Homo sapiens: one gene and its partners. The protein of the gene in region 3 interacts with the protein of the main gene of each other region in a pairwise test. Each region holds a gene or a part of one and is shown on either strand. Other genes may lie near its edges. The genes, in order: TNFRSF10D, CYCS, SEMA4G and COQ8A.

Evidence for each region.
Region 1: the proteins of SEMA4G (region 3) and TNFRSF10D interact in binary tests that used the Homo sapiens proteins (3 or more experiments, as listed by UniProt).
Region 2: the proteins of SEMA4G (region 3) and CYCS interact in binary tests that used the Homo sapiens proteins (3 or more experiments, as listed by UniProt).
Region 4: the proteins of SEMA4G (region 3) and COQ8A interact in binary tests that used the Homo sapiens proteins (3 or more experiments, as listed by UniProt).

What each region holds. Positions count from the first base shown.
Region 1 is NC_000008.11:23,161,020-23,168,387, reverse strand, and holds the start of TNFRSF10D (tumor necrosis factor receptor superfamily member 10D precursor), read left to right. Parts: upstream 1-4,360; 5' UTR 4,361-4,452; coding exon 4,453-4,602; intron 4,603-7,368. UniProt on the Homo sapiens protein: Receptor for the cytotoxic ligand TRAIL. Contains a truncated death domain and hence is not capable of inducing apoptosis but protects against TRAIL-mediated apoptosis. Reports are contradictory with regards to its ability to induce the NF-kappa-B pathway.
Region 2 is NC_000007.14:25,118,151-25,121,742, forward strand, and holds the end of CYCS (cytochrome c), read right to left. Parts: 3' UTR 506-3,592; downstream 1-505. UniProt on the Homo sapiens protein: Electron carrier protein. The oxidized form of the cytochrome c heme group can accept an electron from the heme group of the cytochrome c1 subunit of cytochrome reductase.
Region 3 is NC_000010.11:100,965,605-100,972,503, reverse strand, and holds the start of SEMA4G (semaphorin-4G isoform 1 precursor), read right to left. Parts: upstream 3,001-6,899; 5' UTR 2,913-3,000; intron 2,813-2,912; exon of another isoform or gene 2,580-2,812; intron 1-2,579. UniProt on the Homo sapiens protein: Cell surface receptor for PLXNB2. May play a role in axon guidance.
Region 4 is NC_000001.11:226,985,294-226,988,091, forward strand, and holds the end of COQ8A (atypical kinase COQ8A, mitochondrial), read left to right. Parts: coding exon 1-47; intron 48-1,159; coding exon 1,160-1,444; 3' UTR 1,445-2,251; downstream 2,252-2,798. UniProt on the Homo sapiens protein: Atypical kinase involved in the biosynthesis of coenzyme Q, also named ubiquinone, an essential lipid-soluble electron transporter for aerobic cellular respiration.

The DNA of each region.
Region 1 (7,368 bases), on a different chromosome or scaffold from region 3:
CTTCCCTATCAAATTATTACTCTAAGGAGGATATCTCTCTGCCCATTGCTAAACATTATGCACTGAACAGCCTGTTTCTCGGTCCAAGGAAGTTCGGTTTAGTGGTCCAAACTAGAATAATACCTTCTTTCAGTTCTTTTATATTAATAGCACTCTGGGCATTTGCAGCCTCCACCAGGTAAGGAAAAGACAATCCACAGTCAGTTTCTGTTGCTGTCGAGACTCACCTGTACCCCCCAGGGCACTGCCCTCAGTCTCACTTTCCAAGTATGTTGAGGGCCTCCTCATCAGGGAATCTGCCTCATAGCTATAGGCAGTCTCTGTCTCTCCCGCTGCTAGACAGAACAGCTCTTATTGGTGTCATGTGCCTGAGAGAGAGCAAGAGGAATGTGTTTCGATTCAGCCCATCTCTGCGTCACTGTGGTTCCCCCATATCCACTTCTTTTGCTTCGTGGCCTCTGGTGACCACCTCAAGGGAGTACACGGGGGTATCTCTTGCTGATTACAGTCACTTTCTAAACCTGAGGGTGGGTTCTACTGACCAGCATGGGCGTGTCTTACTTTAATGCACTCCTCAAGCTCCCCTAGAGATTTCCATAGGGTCGGGCCTCATATGGACATCCCTACACTAGGTCAGTTTCCCCTTACTCTTGGAAACAATGGAAAATGTAGAGACGAATATCCAAATTTAATACCCTTTATTTGGAAAGTAAGAATTGCAATTCTTGGCATACACAAAGACCAAGTTGTCTTTGGTACGTCCAAAGAACAAAGAGAAGTTTGGAAGTTTTTTTTTTTTTTTGAGACGGAGTCTGGCTCCGTTGCCCAGGCTGGAGTGCAGTGGCGTGATCTCCGCTCACTGCAAGCTCCGCCCCCTGGGTTCATGCCATGCTCCTGCCTCAGCCTCCCGAGTAGCTGGGACTACAGGTGCCCGCCACCACGCCCGGCTAATTATTTTGTATTTTTAGTAGAGACCGGGTTTCACAGTGTTTGCCAGGATGGTCTCGATCTCCTGACCTCGTGATCCGCCTGCCTCGGCCTCCCAAAGTGCTGGGATTACAGGTGTGAGCCACCGCACACGGCCAGATGTTTTTTTTTAAATGAGAAATACTAAGTATTTTTTTTTGCAGAAAGTTCATTGGCGCTGTAAAATTTGAAGAAGTGGCATGCTCTGACTGGTGAGTGACTGCAGTGGGTCAGGCTGGTCTTAGAGCAGCAGCTGGTTGTGTCAATAGATATAAGACAGAACTATTAATAGTTTCACGTTACAGCTGCCAGACTTACAGAGAATTGCAGTTTGGGGGTAATACAGTGATTTTTCTTCCCCATGGCCTCTTGACTCTGTTTTAGTTGGGTGTGACAAGAATGACCCAATTTGTGCGATCAACTTTCACATTCTCCTTCCCAACTCTATGACCGGGACATTGACGACTGTCCATGAGCCAGAAAAAAACTCAAGTACAGGGGCTTTTGCTGCTGTTCAAATCTTCCATAAGGCTAGGAAAATAGCATGCAATCCAACCCACCTAGCCAATTTGCCTTTGCCTTCTTCCATCAGAGGGGTGGCCTTCCAAGTAGGATGTTGTCCATTCATCTAGGAATGACTGTCTACAAACTAAGTAGCTCTTGGTCAGTAAGTAAAGAGCTGTGTATAGGGCAATGTCCAAGTGACCACAGAATCCAGCAGCTCCTCACCCAGTTCCAGACTCAGTCTGAGGGGAACAGAGGCTCCCTGCTCATGAGTGTCTCCTCTTTGCCTTCCTCAGGCACCAGGATCCCATATCAACCATTTCCATTTTTTAGGCTGAGTGAGGTGGCTCACGCCTGTAATCCCAGCACTTTGGGAGGCTGAGGCGGGTGGATCACGAGGTCAAGAGATCGAGACCATCCGGGCCAACATGAAGATCCCTCGTCTCTACTGAAAATTCAAAAATTAGCCAGGCGTGGTGGCATGTGCCTGTAATCCCACCTACTCGGGAGGCTGAGGCAGGAGAATCGCTTGAACCCAGGAGGCAGAGGTTGCAGTGAGCCTGGATCGTGCTGCACTCCAACCTGGCAACAGAGTGAGACTCCATCTCAAAAAAAAAAAATCCATTTTGTAATAGAACTCTTCTGGGACTGGCCTCCCCGTTAGAGCTTTTCCAAGATTCCTGAAGACATCATCAGTTTTTCAGGTTTCAAGATTATTTTATGTCCTTCAGTGACAGGGGAGACTTCAGTTAGTGTTCCATCTCAAGCTAGTAAGTGCCTCTTAAGTGGAAACTTGACTCTAAAGGCCCAGTTCCTTGGAGGTGCTCACAGCCTTTTGCCATTAGCCCTAGTCAGTGCTCCACACAGGGCACAGAGAATGCGTTGTTACCTGCAGTCTGGTTTCTGGTCTATACTGTGTGGTCCACCCTCCAGGGCCAAGGGAGCTAAGGTGCTCTAAGGACTTTCCTGCAGGCCCTGGTGGCTCTGTGTTAATGCTGTCAGTCTTCCTGAAGTCCCTGACCTTTCACCTCCTGCCTGGATCTGCACCCCGCACACATTCCTGACCCCACACATTTCTCATTGCCTGGGTCCTGGCACACATTTCTGACCCTAGCTCAGTGTCTGGGGCCTGGCACACATTTCCGACCCTAGCTCAGTGCCTGGGGCCTGACACACATTTCTGACCCTAGCTCAGTGCCTGGGGCCTGACACACATTTCTGAGTCTAGCTCAGTGCCTGGAACCTGGCACACATTTCTGACCCTAGCTCAGTGCCTGGAACCTGGCGCACATTTCTGACCCTAGCTCAGTGCCTGGGGCCTGACACACATTTCTGACCCTAGCTCAGTGCCTGGGGCCTGACACACATTTCTGAGTCTAGCTCAGTGCCTGAAACCTGGCGCACATTTCTGACCCTAGCTCAGTGCCTGGGACCTGGCACACATTTTTTTTTCTTTTTTTTTTTTTTCACAGAGTCTCGCTCTGTCACCCAGACTGGAGTGCAGTGGCACGAATCTCGGCTCACTGCAACCTCCATTTCCTGGGTTCAAGCAATTCTCCTGCCTCAGCTTCCTGAGTAGCTGGGATTACAAGTGCCCGCCACCACGCCCAGCTAATTTTTGTATTTTTAGTAGAGATGGGGTTTAACTATGTTGGCCAGGCTGGTCTCGAACTCCTGACCTCTTGATTCGCCCACCTCAGCCTCTCAAAGTGCTGGGACTACAAGCGTGAGCAACCGCGCCCGGCCCTGGCTCACATTTCTGACCCTAGGTCATTGTCTGGGCCCTGGAAGGTGCTCAGGGTGATCCATCGCTCAAATCCAAGCCTGTGGAGAGGATGACATTTCATTCCCAGGTTTCTCATGAGCCAAAAAACCTTCATTTCTATAGCGCTATCCTCTTCTATCTACCATGTGAGGGGTCAGGAGCCGACTCATCCCAAGGGTCTAGGAGTCCTGCCATTGACCTTACTGCTTAGGGTCACAAGCTGGCACCCTTCAAAACCACACATTGGGTCTGCCCTCACAGCGGCAGTGTGTTCAACTGGATGGGGAGGTAAGTAGCCCAAGGTCAGACAGTTGGACCTGGGTAGACAATAGACTTGGGGACAGACTTTGGAAGGCACTCCCCTGATTCCCCTGTCTCCATGGGGCCTCAATACTAGAGCCCTCAAGGTTGGTCAGGGAGTGTTTGTGCTTTGACCATGCAAAGGGTGCCAGGTTGTGGCTAGGGATGCCCCCGGCGTTCCTCTCCCTCCTACCTACTCCTCAGCCTCTGCAGGTGCCTGTCATGGCCTCTGTGTCCTTCATTCTGTCCACTCATGTGTTCACTGGGCCCCTCCTTGGTGCCAGGCACCCGCTACTGAGGGATACCAAGCCCCTGCCAGAGAAGCTTGGAGCTGGGTCACAGCAGCAAGGAGGCTGGAGACATCAGTGGCATCAGTGCACTGGTCAGTGAGGCCGCTGTGGGAGGAGGGAGTGGGAGCAGAAGCTAAGAGTGGACTGAAGTCCTGAGGCCAGGAAGTAGTTCAGGGTTTAAGAAGAGGAGAGACAGGCGGCCCGGGGAGGGAGCAGGCTCAGGATGGGCCTCCAGTGCCTCCTCTGGAGCTCACTACCCAGACTACAGCAGCGCAGCGGGCAGCGCCTCAGCTCCTTCCCCTTCTGCTGCCTACAGCCTGGACAGGACCCGGAATCAAACCGCAGGCCCTGGGTCACCGCTGCCGGAAAGAGCCAGTTCCTGTCCGTCCATGCACCCACCCACACAACCTGGGCCCTCCTGGAGGTGCTGGGGGAGACCCAGCCTGAGTGCCTGGAAGTGACTGCGGGAAGGGAGTACAACTGACCACGCCTTTTTTCCGGGGTATAAAAGCGGAGGAGCACGTTCTATTCTGGCAGTGTAGCTGCGAGAACCTTTGCACGCGCACAAACTACGGGGACGATTTCTGATTGATTTTTGGCGCTTTCGATCCACCCTCCTCCCTTCTCATGGGACTTTGGGGACAAAGCGTCCCGACCGCCTCGAGCGCTCGAGCAGGGCGCTATCCAGGAGCCAGGACAGCGTCGGGAACCAGACCATGGCTCCTGGACCCCAAGATCCTTAAGTTCGTCGTCTTCATCGTCGCGGTTCTGCTGCCGGTGAGTCTCCGCCGCGGTCCCTGGCTGGGGAAGAGCGCACCTGGCGCCGGGAGTGGGCAGGGAGAGAGGGGGACACGGTGGGGATGCTTGGCCCGGGTCGCCTGCGGCCGGGCATGTCTGGGCAGGACGAACCCGCCGTCGGAGTCAGGGGAAGAGTGGGGTGCCCGGGCTGGGCAGGAGCGACCGGGCCGCGAGGGAGCAGAGCGCGCGCTCCCCCTGGCTGTCCCGTGCGGCGAGGACCGCACTGAGCTGCCCCAGAGGAAGTTCCAGAATCAGCGGAGGGAGGGAGTCAAGATGGAAACCCCGGAGTGAACCTCAGGAAGCCACAGAGCGGTTGCCTCTTTCGTTCGTTCGTTCGTTCGTTCGTTCATAACGTTAACCCAGGCCGGTCGCGGTGGCTCACGCCTGTAATCCCAGCACGTTGGGAGGCCGAGGCGGGCGGATCACCTGAGGTCAGGAGTTGGAGACCAGCCTAGCCACCATGGTGAAACCCCGTCTCTACTAAAAATACAAAAATTAGCCGGACGTGATGGCGGTCGCCTGTAATCCCAGCTACTCGGGAGGCTGAGGCAGAAGGAGAATCACTTGAATCCGGGAGGCGGAGGTTGCAGTGAGCCGAGATCGCGCCATCGCACTCCAGCCTGGTCAACAAGAGCGAGACTCCGTCTCAAAAAAAAAAAAAAAAAAAAAAAAAAAGTTAGCCAGGCGTGGCAGCCTGCGCCTGTAGTCCCAGCTACTCAGGAGGCTGAGGCAGGAGAACTGCTTGAACCCGGGAGGCAGAGGTTGCAGTGAGCCGAGATTGCACCACTGCACTCCAGCCTGGGCGACAGAGCGAGACTCTGCCTTAACAAAAACAGACAAACAAACAAACAAAATTAACCCTATGTTTACACTGTTACACGTGTTTCTTGGAGATCAGTTTAACAAACAGCCTGTGAAAAAGCTTTCCAACGCTGTTTTTTGTAACTTTCATTTCCTATAGAACCCTGAAAGTGGCAGGAAGCGGTTAACCAAGGTGCTTGCAGTCAGTGTCTTCCACTGCCACCCGTGTGTCCCCTCTGTATCCCATAGGCAGGACCGCGGGATGGCCCCTTCCTTAGGCATAAAAGATGTAAAGTTCTCGTTGTGAGTTGGGTTTGGAAACTGAGATTGGTAGTGGGGTGCACAAGAAGGACATAAAAATAAGATGTGCAGACTGCCAGGACTTTTTCTGAGTGACTGACGTTTCTGCCAACAGTGCTTTCTAAGGTTTCTTACGTAATACCAAAAAACAAAACGGGGAGGATAAAACAAGATTACATGAACCATGAGAGTCTCCATGTTTTCTTTCAACGAAGTAATACTAAATTCAGAACAGCAGTGACATTTTCACCTCTCAAAAATTACACAACTGACTTCTACAATAGTTTATAGTGGGTGGACCTACCTGAGGCAGCTAGAAGAATGGCTGTGTCAGGACAGTGGCCCTGAAGAGAGAATGTGTGGATGACCTGTGTAGACAAGACCAGCAACCTGAATTTCACAGTTTTGGGAATGTGAACTCTATGCGTCCCAAAGGAGGCTTTGATCCCTCCATCAATCTTGCCTTATTAAATGCATTTCAATGCACAGTTGCTTTTTAAAATTTTGGAGCTAGCACAAATCACATTAGATGTTTTATGGCAGTACATTCAGATTGATTTTCTTTTAAACAAGGGTATTGTATTTTACTACATGGGTAAGCCACAGGTTAATTCACTGTTGCCATCTAGAGGCAGCTGGTTATATCCCATCCCGATGGGATATAACCCAAAGCAAATTTGCCTTTGCTAATTCCAACAGCATTGTACTAAATACCCTTGTATGTATCGTGTGTCCACATGTCCATGCGCACCAGCTTATTGGGCAACTCCTTAGAAGTAGAATTTTACTTCTACTTCCGTGGGATAAATCATTTCAGAAGTTTCTTTAGATGTTTACGAATTTTCTTCCAAAAGACCATTGAACTCAGCTTACACTCACACCTAGTTCACACATGTGCCTGTATCCCTACACCCTTGTTACACTTAGCTTTCATTCGTTGCTAGTCTAGGAAGTAAAAGGTGATTCATCACATTGTTATGTACTTTCATTCCTTAATGGTATTAGGAATTTTCAAGGATACGGGAGTTTTGGTAGTGGGAGTAGATGACCGGGGGATCCAGATGAGACAGCAGGGGAGGGTGGCAGGGAAGACTGAATTCCCAGCTGTGAACTTGGAGAACCGTGGTCAGCTGGGGCCAGTCCCTGCCACCTGCCACGCCTGTAAATGGAGATAAGGTCTCCATCTTCAGGCTGTCAGGAGGACATCAGATGAGCCTGGAGCTGAGCTCAGTTCCTGACCCCAGGTCCTGGCTCTGTCAGCGTTGGACTGTTCCAATCTGTGTGACAGAGGCTTCCGCCCCGCCCTTCTCTTTATCAAAGTAGGAATCGAAAAGATCCAACGGCCCAGAATCTCGGACTCTGAGGCTCTCAAGGACTCCTGAGATTGGAGGCTGGGAACAGCTGGGCCCTGCTGTGCTTCCCCTCCAGCTCTGTGACACTGGTGTGGCCCCAGCTCCTGCCTGTAAAGTGAAGAGGAGATAAAAATCTTCAGCAGCCCTGTGTAAACCTCAGAGGGCTGTGTTAGCAGGTGTGGGAGGATGAACCACATCCTCAGGGCTGGTGTCAGTCACTCCGGACTGGATCCCCAGGGCACATGTCCTCCACCCAGCAGAGGCTGCACCTGTTCCTACTTGCACCTCCATA
Region 2 (3,592 bases), on a different chromosome or scaffold from region 3:
TACAACGTTGTGTTAATCAGATTGATAAAGCAAAGCTCTAAACACAGAACTGAGAAACTCTGTAAAATGCCACACTAAATATTTTAGGCTTTGTCACAACCACTAACCTCTAATGTTGTAGCCCAAAGCAGCCCTAAACAATACACTAACGAATGTGACTGTGATCCAATAAAGTTTTTTTTCTTGAGACGGAGTCTTGCTCTGTTGCCCAAGCTGGAGTGCAGTGGTGTGATCTTGGCTCACTGCAACCTCTGCCTCTCAGGTTGAAGCGATTCTCCTGCCTCAGCCTCCGAGTAGCTGGATTTCAGGTGCCCACCGCCCCCCACCCCTAGGTAATTTTTGTATTTTAGTAGAGACGGGCTTTCACCATGTTGGTCAGGCTGGTCTCAAACTCCTGACCTTGTGATCCATCTGCCCTGTCCTCCCAAAGTGCTGGGATTACAGGCATAAGCCACTGCACCAAGCCCAATAAAGTTCTCTTTACAAAAACAGGCATCTGGTCAGATTGGGTCCACGGGCTGTTTATTGATACACACTAAACACAATTTTCTCCTAATCCTAGACCCAGCATTTTCTGCATTACACTAGCCCAGTGGTCCTTTCTGAAACTACACTGTTCAAGTTACAGACATATTTAAATGTTTAAATTTAAAATGTTAAATTTAACATTTTAACATGTTTAAATGTTCATAGACACATACAACCTGCACTTTTACTCTTTGAGAAATGAATGCAGTAAATTTACTTAGCTTTCTGAGGGAAATGATAGCCTGAAGGCATGACGTTTTCAAATACCCCAAACTCCAACTAAGATAACCTGGAACCTATTAAATGGATATCCAACATTTTGTACTGAACTCTAAGGATATGAACACCAGGACAATGGTTATTCTGAGGCACAGAAAATACAGCCAAAGCAGCAGCTCAGTATGTACCCCGACAGTGCCTAGAAGAGACTTATGTGGGAGACAAAGTTTCTGGTCAGGTGTATTTGTATACTTCATCAGGCATATGCCTTGCATTACATAGCTCTCGCCCCCAACTTGGCAACATCTTATTGGTTTTCAGAATATACTGATGACGGATTGCCAAAAGAGCTCATGAATGAATATTTTCCATTCTAAGGAAACTTTTTTTCTTTTTGAGACGGAGTTTCACTATTGTTGCCCAGGCTGGAGTGCGATGGGGCGGTCTTGGCTCACTGCAACCCCCATCTCCCAGGTTCAAGCGATTCTCCTGCCTCAGCCTCTCAAATAGCTGCAATTACAGGTGCCGCCACCACGCCCAGCTAGTTTTTATATTTTTGGTAGAGATGGGGTTTCACCATGTTGGCCAGGCTGGTCTCAAGCTCCTGACCTCAGGTGATCTGCCTGCCTTGGCCTCCCAAAGTGCTGGGATTGCAGGCATGACCTACTGCACCCAGACCACTTTTTTTTTTTTTAAAAGAGATGGAGTTTCCTTTATCTGTTGCCCAGGCTGGAGTGCAGTAGCACAATCACAGCTACACTGCAGCCTCGAACTTCTGGGCACAAGCAGTCCTCCTGCCTCAGAGTGGCTGGGACTACAGGTGTGCACCACGACGCCCAGTTATCTAGTTTACTCTTACCCAAGTATAAATGATATGAAACAATCTGAGACTAGTCAGTCAACTGTCCTTGGTAAGATCTCCTTCTTGACAGCCATGTGGATTCTATCACACCCTTTATAATTTACAGCAATCTTCAGTGGTTAAAGCAAAACTGTACATCTATAAAGGAATTCAAGAGAAGTGCAGGAAAAGGATGACAAAAGGTAAATCCCTAGCTACCACCAGAATGTTATCTATCTAAAACTGCCAACTTACGAATAGGTAAAACTTATGGTAAAATTATAAAGGTGAGCACAACAGGAACTGGAATCTATTCTGAAGGGCAATATAATGTACTTCCAAGAATTCTAGATTTTTTTTTTTTTTTGGAGACAGTTTCACTCGTCACCCAGGCTTGAGTGCAGTGGCACAATCTTGGCTCACTGCAACCTCCACCTCCCAAGTTCAAGTGATTCTTGTGCCTCAGCCTCCCAAGTAGCTGAGATTACAGGTGCCCACCACCACACCTGGCTAATTTTTATGTTTTTTGTAGAGACAGGGTTTCGCCATGTTGACCAGGCTGGTCTCAAACGCCTGACCTCAAGTGATCTGCCTGCCTTGGCCTCCCAAAGTGCTGGGATTACAGGCATGAGCGACCATGCCCGGCTAATTCTAGATTTAATAGAGTAAAGAGAAAGTACTTTTGTTACAGACCACTGGTTCTAGTCCTAGACCCAGAATGTCAATACAGTAGCCACTAGCCACTTGTGCCTATGTAAATTTAAAATAAAATACTTTCTAGTCACACTAGCTATATTTCAAGGGCTTAACAGCCACATGTGGTTAGTGGCTACCACACTGGACAGCAAAAGTCTACAAAATATCCATCGTCACAGAAAGTTCTATTAGACAGCACTGTTCTAGACAAAATAAGCATGTAGGTGGCATCTGAATACCCCTTAAATACATCTGGCCCTTGTTTTTGATTCTACCAACCTAGCCACTTACAGCGAAGCACTAGAAATGAAAACATGTGGTTTATAGTGCTCTTTTTTTCCCCTATTTCCTTATTTCTGAAGGTATATATCCCTGATAGAAATGTCCTTTTTAAAAAATTACATAATTGGCCAGGCGTGGTGGCTCACGCCTGTAATCCCAGCACTTTGGGAGGCCGAGGCAGGTAGATCACCTGACGTCGGGAGTTCAAGACCAGCCTGTCCAGCATGGAGAAACCCTGTCTCTACTAAAAACACAAAATAAGCTGGGCATGGTGGCGCATGCTTGTAATCCCAGCTACTTGAGAGGCTGAGTCAGGAGAATCGCTTGAACCTGGAAGGCGGAGGTTGCGGTGAGCAGCGATCACGCCATTGCACTCCAGCCTGGGCAACAAGAGTGAAATTATCTCAAAAAAATAAAAATAAAAAAGTTACAGAATCACATTTTAAACCACCAGAAGTGCTTGGGTATAACTGACCTAGAACATGGCAGTTACTCATCTGTGCCAACACAGACCTTAATATAGGAGGCATAGAAATGAGAAAAATTGGCCGGACGTGGTGGCTCACACCTGTAATCCTAGAACTTTGGGAGGCCAAGGTGGGTGGATCACGAGGTCAGGAGTCCAAGACCAGTCTGGCCAACATGGTGAAACACCATCTCCACTAAAAATACAAAAATTAGCCAGGCGTGGTGGCGGGTGCCTGTAATCCCAGCTACTCAGGAGGCTGAGGCAGGAGAATCACTTGCAACTGGAAGGCGGAGGTTGCAGTGAGATTGCACCACTGTACTCAGCCTGGGCGAAAAGGGCGAAACTCCGTCTCAGAAAAAATAAATGAGAAAAATTTTAAACCTGAAAAAAAATTAAACCTAAGTTACTACTGGGCTGATTACTTCTGGGTTAAATAATAAGATTTCTGAATTTGAAAACCAGGCAGGGCCTGGTGGCTCACGCCTGTAATCCCAGCACTTTGGGGAGCCAAGGCAAGTGGACGGATTGCTTGAGCTCAGGAGTTTGAGACCAGCCTG
Region 3 (6,899 bases):
GCCCTTTGATCTGTATGTGGGTGGAAGATGGATGGCGTTACCCAGACTTCAGGGGGCACTGAAAGAAGGAGGCCCAGCATCCACAGAACGCCCACGCCAGGATCGACTCACAATCATTCTGTCTATCGCTTTGCTCTGATGCAGGAGGCTGGGGTGGAACTTACCTTCCTTACAAGACCCTAGATGCCCACAACCCGAAACCCAAGGTCATGACCCTCTTCTGGCCAAGTCAGAAGCTCCACTAGGCCCTCAAGTCAAAGGAGCTGGGGTTCTTGGAGAGAATGCCTGCTTCTCCCAACAATGAGATGCAACTCGGTCAGCAGCTGCCCCTGCTGCCTGCGGGGGTGCCTTATGCAGGAGGGCCTAACCAGAGAGGTTTAATGGACCTTTGTTTATTTTGTCCTGCTTTCCCTTTGTTTTTTCTTTTCCCTGGCCTGAGAGCTCCCTCTGGAATTTCTCTTTAATTATAACTTCTTGGTATTCCTCTCCAAGGGGGTGCACATCTCTGCCCACGCCAGTCTGTATTGCACCCTCTGGCTAGGCATCCACACGTGTCCCTATCTGCAAGTAGGCATTCACAGGCATTGGGGTGGGTACCTAGGATCCCCCTGGTTGCACAGGTATAATGTCTGTGCAGAAGGCTGTAGTGTGCAAGGCCAGTTGAGACATAAGCAACGTGAAGAAGGTAAATGATGGGATCCCTGAGCCCTTGGCCCCTCCCGACACATCTTGGACCCTCCCTCAAGCCAACCAGTTGGGGATGGGATGGGGGTGGGTGGCAGGCCTCTCCCAACCCCTGTAACAGGCCTCCTAATCACCAAGGGGTTCCTTGAAGAGTTCCTGGGCTGGGTGAGGTGTGGAGAGACCTAATACATTCCATCTCATCAGCCACCCACAGGCAGGGCCAGAGGGTGCCACTGGTGCCTCCTCTCCCAGGTCAAATATTAACTATCTGGCCTTGGAAAGAGGGGAGGAATCAGGAACTGGCCAGAGGGATAACAGGAGCAATTATTCAAGAGGTAAAGGTCAGCACTGCAGGGGCAGAGCCCTGAGGGGTAGAGTCAAATATGAAAGGGAGAGAAGAGGATTCCCTGACCCTGAAAGGGCATAGGCTCCCTGTTTGGGATCTGGGACAGCAGGAAGCTTCAGGCAAGCCGGCCATGCCCCACCCCTCCCTGTGGAGGCACACCTGTTTACCTTTGGGACCTCCTATTTGCTCAGTGCAAAAGGCATGTGTGTGGGGAGCACTATGGCTAGGAGGAACATGCCCCAGGTTAGAGGAGCCACTCAGTGTGGTGCATGTCACACTTATAGTTTAAGAGTCACATGGGTGACTATTAGGAAGGTGATATACATGCACATGGGTGCACACACACACACACACACATGTTCACAAGGAGGACTGTGAACACGTGGATTCACAGGGGTCATTCACACATATACTCACAGGGAGTTTTGTGCACACATATGCTCATACAGAGGGCCACAGCCACAGGTAATCATACATATTCACATGTGACGTTGAATTTACATGCCCATCCATTCAGCAGGTCACACAGCCTCAGACATTGAGGAGAGATAAACCCACACATGTGGGTTTGTGTCAAGGACTGTGCACCTATTCAACAGGAGGGTCCTATACATACACATGTATGTGTAGGGACATGCACACAAACCCATTGATATAGTGGGCCAGGCAATCATGTTCACAGAAGGGTCAAGTACATGTGTGCTCACACGCAGTTCTTGAACACACAACTACATCCATGCAGAGACAAGCACACATGCATACAGGGGTCCAGTTTTTGCCATAGGCTTGGAGGCTGCCAGTGTCCACTGGGGTGAGATGCAGAGCAGAACCCTGCCTCTGTTCCTGAAAGTCCCAATTCTAAGGCCCAATTTCAAGTGTGTGTTTGTGTGTGGGGGTGGTGAGGGGGTTGTGTGTGTGTGTGTGTGTGGTGATGGGGGAGGCTTCTGACCTTGGATGGGCAGATGGGATGGGTGCATGAGTCAAGGCCGCTCTACAAGGGAGGGAATGGGAAAGTAACTCAGGCAGGAGGAGGCCCCTAGCTTCAGCAAAGATGGAATGGAACGCATAATTTAGTACTCCTCCACCCCTATGTATATTGCGGTTCTAAAGGTGGGAGACGGGCTGGAGCTCTCAGCCCCCACTTAACCTGTGGGAGGGGGCGGGGCTAAGTGGGCGGGGCGGAGCATATCACCCCTCCCTTCAGTGGCGAAGTACGGGTTTAAGGTCTCCAGTCCACGCCCCACACTCCACCCCAAGTTCCACAGTTCGGGTTCTTCCCCAGGGCCAGCCCCCTGAACTCTGATCACCTTTCCTCTATTAGATCTTGGGGTGGAGGGAACTGGGGAGGAGAGACCCTTCAAACAGGATCAATGGAGGATCAGCAGGCTCTCGACCTTCATCCCAGATGTCCACCTGCCTAGTGTAGGCGGTATTTCCCTCTGCCTAGTAGGATGGCGGTCTCTCCTGGCTTGAGAGAGCCCCTCCCCCGGGACCCCCTCCCTCCAACATCCTGGACAGTCCGCGGTCCTCTCCCTTCGTCAGGTCTAACCTCAGTCTCTACTGCTGCAGCTCGAGGACAAGCTCTCCTTCGATCCCGCCGGACGCCGGGAGACGTGACCCAGATCCTGGGGAACACTGTTCGCCACGCGGCCCCCTCCCCGCGCTGGTCCCCGACTCCGTGGTGGCCGGTTTGCACCCCGCGCAGCCCGAGGCCTGGCCCGCGCCCCTCTAGAGCCGTCATGCAGGACCGGGGGACTTGGTGGTGAGAAAGGCCTGGCCCAGCTTGGAGGGTAGAATGGACGTGGGGGAGGCCTTGCCCGACCCCCGGCCCGCAGCCCCAGGCTCACGCCAGGGCGCCGCCCGCACTCCTCGCCTTGCTCACCTTTGCGCTCGGATCCGGGGCCATAGAGACAGCGACGCGCGGCTCCGCGGCCCCACAGCACCAGCTGCGAGAGGAAGGGGCCGCGGCTGGAGGCGGGGCGGGGGGGGGGTGGTGGAGGCGGAGCCGGGGGTGGGGCGGGGTCCTGAAAGGCGGGGCCGACTGGGTGGGGTGAGGGGAAGGTCGCCACTCTCTTCTTTGCGCCCCCTACTCTAGCACAATAGAGGCGGTTTGAGGGCGAGGCTCACACACAGCCTTCGGCCATCGGGCGACCCCCCACCTCTAGGCGCTGCGGCCCTGAAATCGCCCCCTGGTGGTGGCCTCGCCACCCCGTGCACCCTCCACATGCTTATAGCCCGTCCTCTCCTCCGCTGTAACCCTAGGACCCCCCTGACTTGCCTACTGCTGGGGACGTGCAAACCTGTCCTGGCGTTGCGGGGTTGGGGGACCCTCTCGGAGGGCCTTCTGGCCTGTCCTCTAACCTGGACCTCACTCCCTGTGCTCCTGCCACCCGCTTCTGCTCTCGGCCTAGGGTGTGGAGGGAAGGCTACCCTAGGTGGCGACTGGACGTTAGGGAAGCTCTGAACACAAGGTAGGGGCTTGATTCCCAGCTTCAGGGGCTGTTCAGCTTGAGCTATGCGTGGGGGAGATGGGGTCAGGCCTGAAGGGGATAAAGTAACAGCCTGACCTGAAAGGCACACAGAAAATGCTTTTTCTGGATAAATAAGCCACAAGCGTTTGCACCTGTTCACTCACCAAATCTTAACCCTAACCTAGGCTCACCTCAGGGACTGGGTCATTCAAACACTTGCCTTCCCCTCCAGCTCATCTTGGGCACCATTCTTATCCAGAACTTAGAGTGCACCCTTCTAGGCAATCAAGTACCCTATCCTTCCCAGATTCAATCACCTTACCCAGCAGCAATCTAGGAAACCCCTCACAATCAACTCCCCAACTCCTTTAACTCAACTAGGATGGTCCTTCTGTGCAAACTTGGTTCCTGCCTCCTTTAATAGGTCACAGCCTATTAAAGTGAACTTAGCCCCTATAGTCCAAACAAAACCTGCATTCAGGCCCTGACCCAGCCTGGTCCTTCCTCCTCCATCCATGACAGTATTCATGTGGGCTCAAGAGATGGACCAAAATGATAAAGGCCACAGGAACATATGTGATTGACTCTTGCATGTGCCTAGGAGTCAGAACAGGATTCAAGTGGCACATTTAACTAAAGGAAACTTGGGAAAGGCTTCATCCTTCTTTCTGGATTCCCCAAAGCTCACAGTTTGGCACTGAATCATATACAATCTCGTAGTTTGGATGGCTGTGTGTGACTGCAGACTGCTAGACAGCAGGGCCCACATCACAGTTCCACCTCCCCCAACACTCTGCAAATAGGATGTGTGTGGCGGGGAGAGGGAAGGTAGCTGGGGAGAAACACAATAAAAAATGTACACACACTTTTACAAAGAATATCCTGCTTCATTTTTTATTTGTACCCTCATCCCATCCTGAGGAATTTATAGCCCCATTTTATGGATGGGGAAACAGGCTCTAAGACATTAAGTAACTTGCCTTGAAGTTCATTCTTGTGTTTATGGAGAGGACAATCAAGACTGGAAAAGTCTGAGAAGGAGGAAGCAGGGTAAGCCAGAAGGGGAAATACCATTGGCAAAGGTAGAAATGTTCAAGCTTATGCACAGGCTTGTGTTGGGGAACTAAGGAAGGGGCATGAAAGAGGGCAGTGAGTTTGATTTGATGAAATGGCTGGGGGGGGGGGGGGGGCGGGGAGGGGTTCCTAGTGGGAAATAAAAGGGAAAAGTCAGCTAGTAGTTTGAAAAAGACCACAGAAGAAAATCCTGAAAGAGATGATGGACTGAGTAAGGACGTCTGAGGTGGGAAGACCAGTCAAGGCAGGGCTAAGAAAGATAAATCTGCAGTCCTTATCAAAAAGTGGGTTGGTGGTAACAGTGGAGGCAGGGTAGGAAGACTGCTGGTCCTTCAGTAGCAGATAGGAGAGCAATTAAACTGTAGGGGCCCAGGGGGCTAAGAGGCACAGCTTCCCAAATGTTCACAGAACCTGCAGTGCTGACTTCAGATAGCTCTGGAGGTGGCGAGTAGGCCAGTGTGGTAGGCTCAGTATCACTCAACTTCACTTTATGAACCAAGCTTTGCTCCTCTGAGGTGCTGATGGCAAACTCAGACATTGTTAAATGAGCAAAATGTGTGATTTCAATGATCACTGGGCAGTTACTTCAGTACTTTTGATAGCAGACCACAATCCATTTCCTTCTGCTAGCCTCCCAGTAAAATCTCTAAACCTAATGAGAGTATCAGATGTAAAAGCAATTAATGGAGCTGCCCATAGGAAGCCCTTTTGATTGACAGTATGTCTCTCTGCAAATCCAGCTGGTAAAATAAGAACGGGGGAATACTGACAGACAGTGGAAAAGAAAACTGGAAATCAACTAAAGAAATTAACCCTAACCCAGCCATAAATCTGCATCCTGGGACACAGGCAGGTCATTCTTTGAACAGGCTGTCACTCATCCATAAGGTCACTACCCTGGCTGCTTCGCAGGGTGGCTGTGAGAGGATTCCATTTGGAAACCTTCTGGAGAACTTCACACACACAGAAAAGTATGAGTTTTGTTTTTGCTAGTCTATTTTCCCCAACTTTGCTGTAAGAAAGTGGCTGAGGGTAGTGCTGGCCGTCTTCAGCAGTGATTGTCAGCCACTTACACACCAGAGTTTAGCTCCACTTTGCACAGAACAGTTACTTACTGTAGCAGGGATCCTAGGTGAAGGGGGTGGGTATGAATTCCTGAAACTTGAGCAGGTTCCCTGAAGCAAGAGAACTCTGGCCTAGTCAAGTTGTCCTGCTTACTGTTCAATGTGGCAGCATTTCTGTTCCTGCTTTGCCATCTCCATCTCTGGTTTGCCCAGCACTTTCCCTTTAGGTGGTGTGGTCTTTATTTTGGCTATATATACAGCTGAGGTGCTTCTTCTGTAGGGGCTGTCACCAGTGCAACAATGCGGAAGTCTCACTATTCCACTGTGCCTCAGAAGCCTGTTTAGTTTTCCTCCCAGCCAGTCGTCTTGGAGTCAGACCCAAAGCTGGGCCTTCTGGTTTGCCCTCTCTTGACTCCAGCCTAGGGAATGGTTAGTAAGGGAAAGGGAGTGTCAGGACATTCCCACAAATGCTGGAAAACCACCACCCATCACCAATTTCTCAGCTTTAGCATGCTGGCTTTTAAAAAGTGAAAATTTTAATTAAAAAAAATCAGCAGAGATAGCTGGACAGAGAAGCTCCAGCTCCCGGTATCCAAAGAAATAGGGCACACTTACAACTATAATTTTTGGAGATATGGTTTGCTCAGATGTCAGTACACCCTGAGGTGTCTGCTTAAGATCAAATCTGTCATCAGAGAAACGCCTCGTTAGAGCAGCAAGCATTTGCTGAGTTCTTGCTATATGCCAGGCACTGTACTAGGCACTTTTCATGCATTAGCTCGCTTAGTCCTCACAAACCCTGAGGTAGACACCATTATTCAACAGATGAGGAAACAGTGAGTTTAAGTAATTTGGCAAAGATCAAAAGGCTAGTATGATGAATCTGGGATCTGAGGTCAGGCCTTGGGGCAAGGTCAAGGCCCTTAACTTGCATAAAGCTGTGCTGCCTGCCCTCTAGTAAGTACTTACGGCAATGTCTCTGCTTCTTCCTGGGCTGTCATCCCCTCATCCCTCCGCCCCACTGTCAGAGAAAAATGCTCCCATTTAGTCTCTTTCTAGCCAGCCTGTCAGAAGGCAGAAATACTGGCATGGTTTTGGAACTCAAGGCCTCTGACAATGCCAAGGCCTTCTATGAGCTCCAAAGTTCCTCCTATGAGGTTTCAACCTCTGCCTCCCAAGTTGGCATACCCAGATCTCTATCTGCTTGGCAGGTTGGAGGTGATCTCAAGCCCTGCTTCTGCATTGTACAGCTTCTTCTTT
Region 4 (2,798 bases), on a different chromosome or scaffold from region 3:
GGGCGAAATCCATAGAGATGAAGTTCCTCACCGGCTACGAGGTCAAGGTGAGCAGGGTTGCGGGGGATCCCCTGGGCCTGCTGACCCAGGGCCCGGCTCCCTGTGTAAGAATGGATGAAAGCACAGGGGGCAGCTGCCCTCAAGGGGCCCCCAGAGCCCGGGCCTCCTTGGGCACGGTCTGAAAGCTGGGGCCCACCCCGGCCCATGCTGCCCTGCTGAGCGTGAGATTTTCCGAGTGGGCCAGTGAGTTGGGGACTTGTCGTGAAGCTCTTGTTTCTGCCTCTCACTCTTGCCCACTTAGGGCTTGGGGTTGGGCCTCGATTGAGCCAACGTGCAGAGCAAGTGGGAAGGGAAGCCCCAGCCCTCCCCTCATCGAGCCTCCCTGGGGGGAGTTGGAAGAAACCTTAGAAGCCTTTTAAATAAAGGGGAACGGTCTGTGCTGGTGCCGCCTGAAGCCACCCACAAAGTGGCATTTTCCGCTTGCTGCTTGACAGTGGGGAAGGAGTTAAAGAAATCCAGGTCAAGCCTTGGGTCTGCCGTCTCATAGGAGTGTCATTTGAGGCTTGTCAGTATCTCTGAGCCCCCCTTATCTCAGCTGTAAGCGCTCAGCGGGCAGCAGCTCTCTCCCGCCTCTTCCTTATGGCCACTCGCACTGACTCGATTCCTGGCCGCCCCGTCCCTCTGACCACCTTGGGCTGTCCCTGGCGGCAGCTCCTCTCCCCTGCTCTGCTGGCGGCGGCTTCCTTAGGTTGCTAGTTCCCGTGGGCAGACACACGGCTGCTGGGTGTGTCTTGGGTGGACTCTGGCAGGCTCAGACACGCATGGTGGGAGGCCCTGCCAGCTTAGGCCCACGGACTCTGTTCTTTTTGGCCAGAACAGTGTTTTGTTAAAACTCTGTATGAGTGCCACGAGGCGGGACGCATCCTCTGCACTCTGCCACAGGCCCCGCCACTCCCTTTTGTATCACATCAGCCCAGTCCATGTTACCCTCGTGTTCCCGGCCCCTGTGGGTTTGAGTTTATGCCCATTACCATGATGTAATCCAGTTTACAGCAGAGCTTTGAATGAGAACTCAGCGCCCCGGGCACTGTGGGAGGAACCCGGGCTGGTGGAGGGCTCTGGTGTCTCGCCGCCATTTATCCTTCCTCTCTTGCCCCAGGTCATGGAAGACGCCCACTTGGATGCCATCCTCATCCTGGGGGAGGCCTTCGCCTCTGATGAGCCTTTTGATTTTGGCACTCAGAGCACCACCGAGAAGATCCACAACCTGATTCCCGTCATGCTGAGGCACCGTCTCGTCCCCCCACCCGAGGAAACCTACTCCCTGCACAGGAAGATGGGGGGCTCCTTCCTCATCTGCTCCAAGCTGAAGGCCCGCTTCCCCTGCAAGGCCATGTTCGAGGAGGCCTACAGCAACTACTGCAAGAGGCAGGCCCAGCAGTAGGGCTGCGGGCCACGCCCAGGCCGGCTCCGCGGGAACTCTCTCCCTCAGACAGGCCAAAAACCAGTAGCGAGGTCGTGGTGATGCTCTTTTTAACTCCTTTGCCCAATAAGGGGGGTGGCTGCCTGGAGCCCCGTAGCCAGCGCTTTCCACGGTTTCTGTTGCTAAATGGTTGTAGGGTGAGAAGTGCAAGAATGAAGATGAAGCCCCACTGCTCGGTCAGTCTGCCTCCGTGTGTCCTCTGAAATAAGCAGATGAAGATGAAAGGGCAACTTTGTTTTCTTCTTTTTCCTGATGTGAATGTTAAGCAGAAGGGAGAGAGTCCTTACTCCCTTCCAATCTCTGTTCAGTGCAAAACCCAGAAACATGAACAGATACGATTGTGGGATTTTATCATCTGTGTAGTAGGTGTGTGTATGTGTTTCTAGAGTGAGATTTGTGTTTTCTGCCCTTTTCCTCTCCAGCCGATGGGCTGGAGCTGGGAGAGGTGCTGAGCTAACAGTGCCAACAAGTGCTCCTTAAGCCTGCGAGGCCCAGGCCTGTGGGGCTGGTTCTCACCTTTGACAGCTGAATGTTCCTAAAGAACTGCTGCCCCACAGTGAGGGTGGGAGCAGCGGAACAGGGAATGCCAGACACAGGCTCGCTGCTGCTGGAAGGCGGGGTGGGACTTCCTTCCTCTGTCCGGAGAGGCACAGGTGTCACCAGTTCCAGCCAAAGGCTCCTCACAGGCGCTGTGAATTTTTGTACAAGTCTTGTAATTATCGAATCAACAACTTGTTTCAATTTAATAAAAATGCTCATGGGAAGTGCTTTGGCGCGTGTACCCTCTTCTGTATTCTGGAGAATGACGACCCGTATCTTCTAGCTCGTGGTGGTGGTTCTTTTCTGACCTGACGGTCAGCAGGTTCAGTGTCACAGCCCATTTGCAAGGGTTGGGACTGGTTCAGCGTGAGGCCCTTGGCCCTGAACCTGGAAGGCTCAGCCCCGTTCCCTGTAAGAAGGGAGGTGGGAGGGGTGGAGAACAGGAGGAGAGGTTGCGGTGTCACTGCCCCAGCCCCCGGGAGGCTGTACCACACTGCTGAAGCTGCTGTACCTGGTGATGGTGGCAACTGGGAGGACAGTGACACCTGCCAGCACGGCTGATGCCAGGTCTGCATCACAGTGAGACGTCTCCTCTCTAGACATCAGCTGCAGTTGAGGACCACGTCCTGAAAAGTGGCTTTTCCTGGGGCCAGACTGATTCCTAGATAACAGGACACACTGGACACTGAGCTGGGGCCCTTTCTACGGACCTGTGAGCAGTTGAAAGTGCATCTGCAGAATGCACAGGCCCAAAAGAGGCTTTGAGAGGTATAGG